Linked DNA regions of Homo sapiens. The protein of the gene in region 1 purifies or fractionates together with the protein of each later gene. This does not show direct contact. Each region holds a gene or a part of one and is shown on either strand. Other genes may lie near its edges. The genes, in order: BCL7B and SS18L1.

Region 1 (3,812 bases):
CCGTAAAACCTAAAATATTTATCATCTGACCCTTTAAGAAAAAGTTTGCTGATACTTGCTCTTATGCGATTAGTCCCCCACTGTATTGTGTGTATCATATGTATATACATCTTTCTAATTCTGGTGTAGACCTTTGTGCTTCATCTTTGTTGGATGTATTTGGATACCTGTATATTCTTTAAAAATACATAGCATTGTTTCATATGTGTATTTTTGTGTTTAAACAAAACTTAAATATGTGGGCCGGGCGTGGTGGCTCACGCCTGTAATCCCAGCACTTTGGGAGGCCGAGACGGGCGGATCACGAGGTCAGGAGATCGAGACCATCCTGGCTAACATGGTGAAACCCCGTCTCTACTAAAAGTACAAAAAATTAGCCGGGCATGGTGGTGGGCGCCTGTAGTCCCAGCTACTCGGGAGGCTGAGGCAGGAGAATGGTGTGAACCCAGGAGGCGGAGCTTGCAGTGAGCCGAGATCGCACCACTGCACTCCAGCCTGGGCGACAGAGTGAGACTCCATCTCAAAAAAACCAAACAAACAAACAAAAAAAAAACAAAAAAAAAATATGTACAGTATTTTGCCAGAACCTCTTTGTATTCTCTGTGGTTCAACTTTGGTTTTTTAATTTGGGGTTTTTTGCTTTTTTGTTTTTTTGAGACGGACTCTCGCTCTGTCGCCAGGCTGGAGTGCAATGGTGCAATTTCAGCTCACTACAACCTCTGCCTCCCAGGTTCAAGCAATTCTCCTGCCTCAGCCTCCTGAGCAGCTGGGATTACAGGCGCCTGCCACCACGCCTGGCTAATTTTTCTATTTTAAGTAGAGACGGGTTTCACCATGTTGGCCAGGTTGGTCCCAAACTCCTGACCTCAAGTAATCCGCCTGCCTTGGCCTCCCAAAGTGCTGGGATGACAGGCATGAACCACCGTGCCTGGCCCAACCTTGTTTTGAGAACCCTCCATGTATCTGTAAATATAAATAGAATTATTACCTTTGACTCATGCATTGCATTTTCTTATTTGCAGTGAGTACCTTTATCTACATATTTTCTGGGTGATAAATACCCAGATTGTTTCCAACTTTATTTTTTCTAATTGTTTTTTAAATTTTCAAATATAAAACACATACAGAGAAGTATATAAAACATAAATGTACAGTGTATGAATAAATATAAAGCTAACACTCTTGTGAGAACCACTCTGCAAAACACAGCTTTGCCAAGACCCCAGCAGACCTCTCTGCAGCTCTTCCCATCCTCTTCCTCCTGTCCCTCTAAAGGTAATGACTCTCCTACTTTTGCTTTTCTTACCACTTGTCTAGTCATTCATAAACAGTTTTTCCTTTATTATTATTTTTGAGATTTTTTTTCCAGAGACAAAATCTCACTATGTCACCGAAGCTGGAGTGCAGTGTCATGATCTCAGCTCACTGGAGCCTTGACCTCCCAGGCTCAAGCAATCCTCCCACCTCAGCCTCCTGAGAAGCTGGGACCACAGGCATATGCCATCATGCCCAGCTAATTTTTTTTCTTTCTTTTTTTTGTTTGTTTTGGAGAGATGGGAGTTTGCTATGTCAACCTAGGCTGATAGGTCTCAAATTCCTGGGATCAAATGATCTTCCCACCTCGGCCTCCCAAAGTGGTGGGATTTTAGGCATGAGCCATCGTACCCACGCTTTTTCCTTTTTTAGAGATGGTGGGGGGTCTCATTGTTGCCCAGGCTGGATTTGAACTTTTGGGCTCAAGGGATCTTATCTCAGCCTCCCAAATAGCTGGGATTACAGGCATGTGCCACTGCACCAGCCTCTAACATTTTGAGTGTTATGGAAACAGCATGATAAAGTATCTATTTTCGTGTGTCTTGTTTCTTTTGCTCAGCATTATGTTTGTAAAATGCATCCATGTTGTCCTTGGAGTTACCCATTCCTTTCCATTGCTCTCTCTGCTGTATTTTGCTGCATATTCATCACATGGCTAAGTGTAGTTTATTTTTCTGGTTCTCCTGTAGATATTGAGGTTGTCCACAGTTAGGGCCAATAGGAACAATGCCCCTGTGAGCATTCTTGTTCAGAATCCACATCAACATGTACATGAGTTTTCCTAGGATATATTCTTGGAAGGGAAGTGGCTGGGTCTTAGGGTATGTATGTTTTGACCTATATTAGCTGATGCTAAACTATTTGCTGAAATGGTAGTTGTACCAATTTATATTCCCACCAGAAACAGGAGTTTTGTTTTTTGGAGTTTTTTTTGTTTGTTTGTTTGTTTTTTTGAGACGGAATTTCGCTTCTCTTGACTAGGCTGGAGTGCAGTGGCGCAATCTCGGCTCACTGCAGCCTCTGCCTCCTGGTTTCAAGCGATTCTCCTGCCTCAGCCTCCCAAGTAGCTGGGATTACAGGCATGCGCCACCACATCTGGCTAATTTTGTATTTTTAGTAGAGACTAGGGTTCTCCATGTTGGTCAGGCTGGTCTTCAACTCCCGATCTCAGGTGATCCGCCCGCCTCGGCTTGCCAAAGTGTTGGGATTACAGGCGTGAGCCACTGTGCCCGGCCTGCTCCTTTTTTTATTATTATTATTATTTTGTAAGACACGGTTTCAATCTGTCGCCCAGGCTGGAATGCAGTGATGTAATCTCGGTTTACTTCTACTTTTGTCTCCTGGGCTCCAGTGATCCTCCCACCTCAGCCTCCTGAGTAGCTGGGACTACAGTCACATGCCACCACATCCAGCTAATTTTTGTTGTTGTTGTTTCCTTATTTTGTTTTGTTTTTTCGAGACAGAGTCTCACTCTGTTGCTCAGTCTGGAGTACAGTGGTGCGATCTAAGCTCACTGCAACCTCTGCCTCCCGGGTTCAAGCAATTCTCCTGCCTCAGCCTCCAGAGTAGTTGGGATTACAGGCACACACCACCAGGCCCGGCTAATTTCTGTATTTTTAGTAGAGACAGGGTTTTACCATGTTGGCCAGGATGGTCTTGATCTCCTGAGCTCGTGTTCTGCCCACCTCCGCCTTCCGAAGTGCTGGGATTACAGGCGTGAGCCACTGCGCCCAGGCTCGCCTAAAATTTCATGCACCTACATTTTTTTTTTTGAGACAGGGTGTCACTCTGAGGCTGGAGTGCAGTGACGTAATCTTGGCTCACTGCAGCCTCCGCCTCCTGGGTGCAAGCAGTTCTGGTGCCTAGCCTCCCAGTAGCTGAAACTACAGGTGCATGCTGCCACACCCAGCCTAATTTTTGTATTTTTTGGTAGAGACGGGGTTTCATGATGTTGGCCAGGCTGGTGTTGAACTCCTGACCTCAAGTGATTTGCCCATCTAGGCCTCCCAAAGTGCTGGGGTAACAGGTGTGAACCACTGTGCTCAGCCTCATGCACCGACTTCTTACTGTTTTCTCCTACATTTGTTTTTCTTTTTGCTAGAATACATCCTTCAAGAGTTTTGTCAAAGAGAGCTTCTGTGGGGAAAACTTTCTGAAAATATCTTTGTTTCACTTTCATGTTGAAAATTGATGATTTTACCTGTATATGAAATTCTAGGTTCAAAATTATTTTCTTTCAGCACTTTGAAGCTATTACTGAATTGTACATCCAGTGTCGCTGTTAAGAAATGTGATGTTATTCCCATGCTTGAGTCTTTGTAGGTGATCTACTTGGCTTCCTGGAAACTTTAGCATTTCTTCTATATTTGATCTCCTAGGAATTCCCTCAAAATATCCTGTAATATTTCTTTTCCTTTTTTTTTGAGACTGTCTCACTCCATAGCTCATGCTGGAGTACAGTGGTGCAATGATGGTTCACTGTAGCCTCAAATTCCTGA
Region 2 (3,812 bases), on another chromosome or scaffold:
TGTGGTTCCCCCGCAGGCTCTTCCCAGCAGTACCTGGGCCAGGAGGAGTACTATGGCGAGCAGTACAGCCACAGCCAGGGCGCCGCGGAGCCCATGGGCCAGCAGTACTACCCCGACGGTGAGCACTGGCGGCGGCCTGACCCCGCCCAGGAACGCAGAGCAGCTGCAGGGGCAAGGAGGGCAAGGAGGGCAAGGAGGGTGTGGCCACTGCAGTGTGTCCTCAGTCATTCCAGCTCAGGCCTGGGCTACAGGCAGAGTGGCCAGACGCCCTGCAGGAGCAAGGTAGGGGATGGGGTGAGCTGGGCTGGCAGTGGTGCCTGGCCTCTGCAGAGAGAAGCTGTGGCACACACCGCTGCACTGGCCTCCACGCGGCCTTGCCTCTACTTCCTGAAAGGCTGTGGGAGTTGGAGGCGGATAATTGTAGCTCCTAGCTGTAGATAGGTGGAAATGTTCAAGAAGGCGCCTCCCAGCTTCACAGAGAATGCCCTGAAGGTGACGGCTCCACCTGCAGCACCTCTCCTCCTGCACCTTCTCATCTCTGCAGAGTATTTTACCGTCGTCACCTTTCAGTCTTTGCATAGTCCCAGGGCTTGTGGAAGGGATACTGAAAGTGGTCTTGGCTGAAAACAGCGGTTCACACCTGTCATTCCGGCACTTTGGGAGGCTGAGGCAGGAGGATCGCTTCAGCCCAGGAGGTTGAAGCTGCATTGAGCCATGATCGCACCACCACACTCCAGCCTTGGTGACAGAGCAGGATCCTGTCTCTAAATAAAGTAAAAATAACAATAAAATAAAGTGGTCTTAAAGGCTGGATTGATCCCTGGGAGGCATCCAGGCAGGGAGCTGGCCTCAGCCAGCAAGGGGCAGGTGCACAGACAGGTGGGCAGGTGGCAGCAGGGCAAGCCACCCTGGCCACGTGATGGTCACATGCAGCGAAGGCCTCGGTAAGGGTTGGACACCCCTGCCTGCGTCCTCCCAGGAGCTAGCGGTGGCGGGGAGAAGGCAGTCGGGTCACTAGCATGGCTGTGTGGCAGGCACTGAAAGCGCTGATCCTCTGCATAAATCCCCAGGTAGCTTCACAGTCGCCCCGAGAAGGAGGCATTGATGTCTGCATTTCAGTGGGGAGGCCGAGGCTCAGGAGGTTGGGGCATGGTTTTGGGGAACACGGGTCCTGCCGGCTCTTGTTGCCTCCCTGGCCAGACAACATCTCCCCAGCCTGGGTCTCAGTTGCCTCCTCCGGGACCTGTGCAGTGCACAGCCTCCGCTGACTGTCGCCGTCTCCGTTTCGCACAGGCCATGGCGATTACGCCTACCAGCAGTCATCCTACACGGAGCAGAGCTACGACCGGTCCTTCGAGGAGTCCACGCAGCACTACTATGAGGGGGGTAAGGAGCACGGCTGCGTGCTGGGCTCGAGCGTAAGCGCCACACGCAGCAGAGTTAAGACGCTGCACCCTTAGGAGCACGCGGTGCCTGCCTTCAGTGAGTCCCTTAAATCACAGCACAGCGCGTGGGAGGAGAGACAGTGTGTTCTGGAAGCTGGAAATTCAGGCTGTGTCGGGAGCCCCGCTTGCCTTATGGGTGTGTTCGTGAGACAGGAAAGGATTCAGCCGGCCATGCTGGGGTTGGGGGCACAGACTTGGTTATTGGGTCCAGCCAGGGAGCGTGGGGCCTGCGACAGGAAGGATTCAGCCGGCCATGCTGGGGTTGGGGACACAGACTCTGTTATTGGGTCTGGCCAGGGATCGTGGGGCCTGCGAGCCACTCTCAGAGCTTCCTCAGCTGGAGGCCAGCAGTGGCTGCGCTGGGTGTGGCCTCGCGTTTCTTCAGACACCTGCAGGCCAGGAAACGCACATCTGTGGCTGGGGGCTTGCCGCCCTTCATGGCGGTCCTGGGCAGTGCTGCGCTGGGGGCTGCGTGTCGGGTGGACTTGCCCCTTTCTGTGGTGTCTGTGCCCCCACCCTGGCTGCCCTGAAACCCCAACAGAACATCCCAGAATGTGGAGTTGGGAAGAGGTACACACAGCCCGTTCCAGTCCCACCCCGGGATAAAGATGGCCCCCAGAGAAGAGCTGATGATCGCCTGCGGGATTGCGCAACCTCGTCCGGGAGGGAAGGCGGGCCTGCAGTCCCTGGGGAGAGGGGCCTCGTGTCTGCTGACGCTGACCGGCAGGCAGCAGTGGCTGAGGCCTTCCCACTGCAGGGCTGCAATTTATCAAGAGGTAACAGTGTTGGTGAGGCTTCACCAGGTACACAAAGCAGGCAGGCACTAAACGGCTACAGATTTCCTTGTTTGGGTTACTTCTTAAAGAATTGGATGTGTAAAGGTTTTGCTTCTGAGCTTACACATCTCAGCCTGCTGTGAAGAAATAAAGCACGCAAGTGTAGGCACATATAGAAACATCACGGTGTGCGCTACGAATGCCTGCAACGTTGAAATGTCAGTTACACCTTTGTAAACCTGGGGGAAACAAAAAGTACATGAATACATAATGAAAGTTTAAAAGAAGAAAGAGCCTAGGTGTTGTGGCTCACGCCTATAATCCCAGCACTTTAGGAAGCTGAGGTGGGTGGATCACCTGAGGTCAGGAGTTTGAGACCAGCCTGGCCAACACGGTGAAACCCCGTCTCTACTAAAAATACAAAAATTAGTTGGACGTGGTGGCATGTGCCTGTAATCTGAGCTACTCAAGAGGCTGAGGCAGGAGAATTGCTTGAACCCGGGAGGTGTAGGTTGCAGTGAGCTGAGATCATGCCATTGCACTCCAGCCTGGGCAACAAGAGTGAAACTTTGTCTCAAAAAAAATAAAAAGAAATAAAAAAAAGAAATGGCCAGGCATGGTGGCTTACGCCTGTAATCCCAGCACTTTGGGAGGCCAGTGGAGGAGGATTGCTTGAGCTCAGGAGTTTGTTTGTTTTTTTTTTTTTTTTTTTTTGAGACGGAGTCTCACTCTGTCGCCGAGGCTGGAGTGCAGTGGTATGATCTTGGCTCACTGCCACCTCCGCCTCCCAGGTTCAAGCAATTCTCCTGCCTCAGCCTCTTGAGTAGCTCGGATTACAGGCCCCGCCACCACACCCAGCTAATTTTTGTATTTTCAGTAGAGATGGGGTTTCATCATGTTGGTCAGTCTGGTCTCGAACCCCTGACCTCATGATCCACCTGCCTCAGCCTCCCAAAGTGCTGGGATTACAGGCGTGAGCCACCGCGCCCGGCCGAGCTCAGGAGTTTGAGGCCAGCATGGGCAACATGGCAAAACCCTTTCTCTCCCGAAAAAAAAAAAAAAAATGCCGGGCGTGGTGGCGGGTACCTGTAATCCCAGCTACTCAGGAGGCTGAGGTGGGAGAATCGCTTGAACCCAGAGGCAGAGGTTGCAGTGAGTTGAGATTGCACTACAGCACTCCAGCCTGGGTGACCGAGCCAGACCCTGTCTCAAAACAAAAGCCACCCTGTGGCCAGCACCCAGAGGCTATCTTCTGGCATATTGGCTGCAGTGGTGCCTCCGTAAGCCCTGGGAGTCAGCAGGATCTCTGCCATCATGGGCCTGGCCCTGTCCCTTCCAGCTGGAGCACAGGGTTCAGCCTTGTCCATGGCGAGGTGTCCACATGCGTCTGCCCAAGGCTGCCACACTTTGTCCCAAAAACAAACGCAGGATGTGCTGCTCAGCCTTTTAGTGTCTGATGTAGCTACTTTTTTTTTTTTTTTAAAGAGACAGGGTCTTGCCCTATCACCTAGGCTGGAGTGCAGTGGCCTGATCGTGGCACACTGCAGCCTGGAAATCCCAGGCTCAAGTGATCCTCCTGCTTCAGCCTCTC

Evidence for each region.
Region 2: the proteins of BCL7B (region 1) and SS18L1 purify together in Homo sapiens (affinity purification with mass spectrometry, with the first as the bait; one large-scale study listed by BioGRID). This does not show direct contact.

Annotation. Positions count from the first base shown.
Region 1 is NC_000007.14:73,547,386-73,551,197, reverse strand, and holds part of BCL7B (B-cell CLL/lymphoma 7 protein family member B), read left to right. Parts: intron 1-3,812. UniProt on the Homo sapiens protein: Positive regulator of apoptosis. Plays a role in the Wnt signaling pathway, negatively regulating the expression of Wnt signaling components CTNNB1 and HMGA1.
Region 2 is NC_000020.11:62,164,129-62,167,940, forward strand, and holds part of SS18L1 (calcium-responsive transactivator), read left to right. Parts: intron 1-16; coding exon 17-118; intron 119-1,293; coding exon 1,294-1,386; intron 1,387-3,812. UniProt on the Homo sapiens protein: Transcriptional activator which is required for calcium-dependent dendritic growth and branching in cortical neurons. Recruits CREB-binding protein (CREBBP) to nuclear bodies.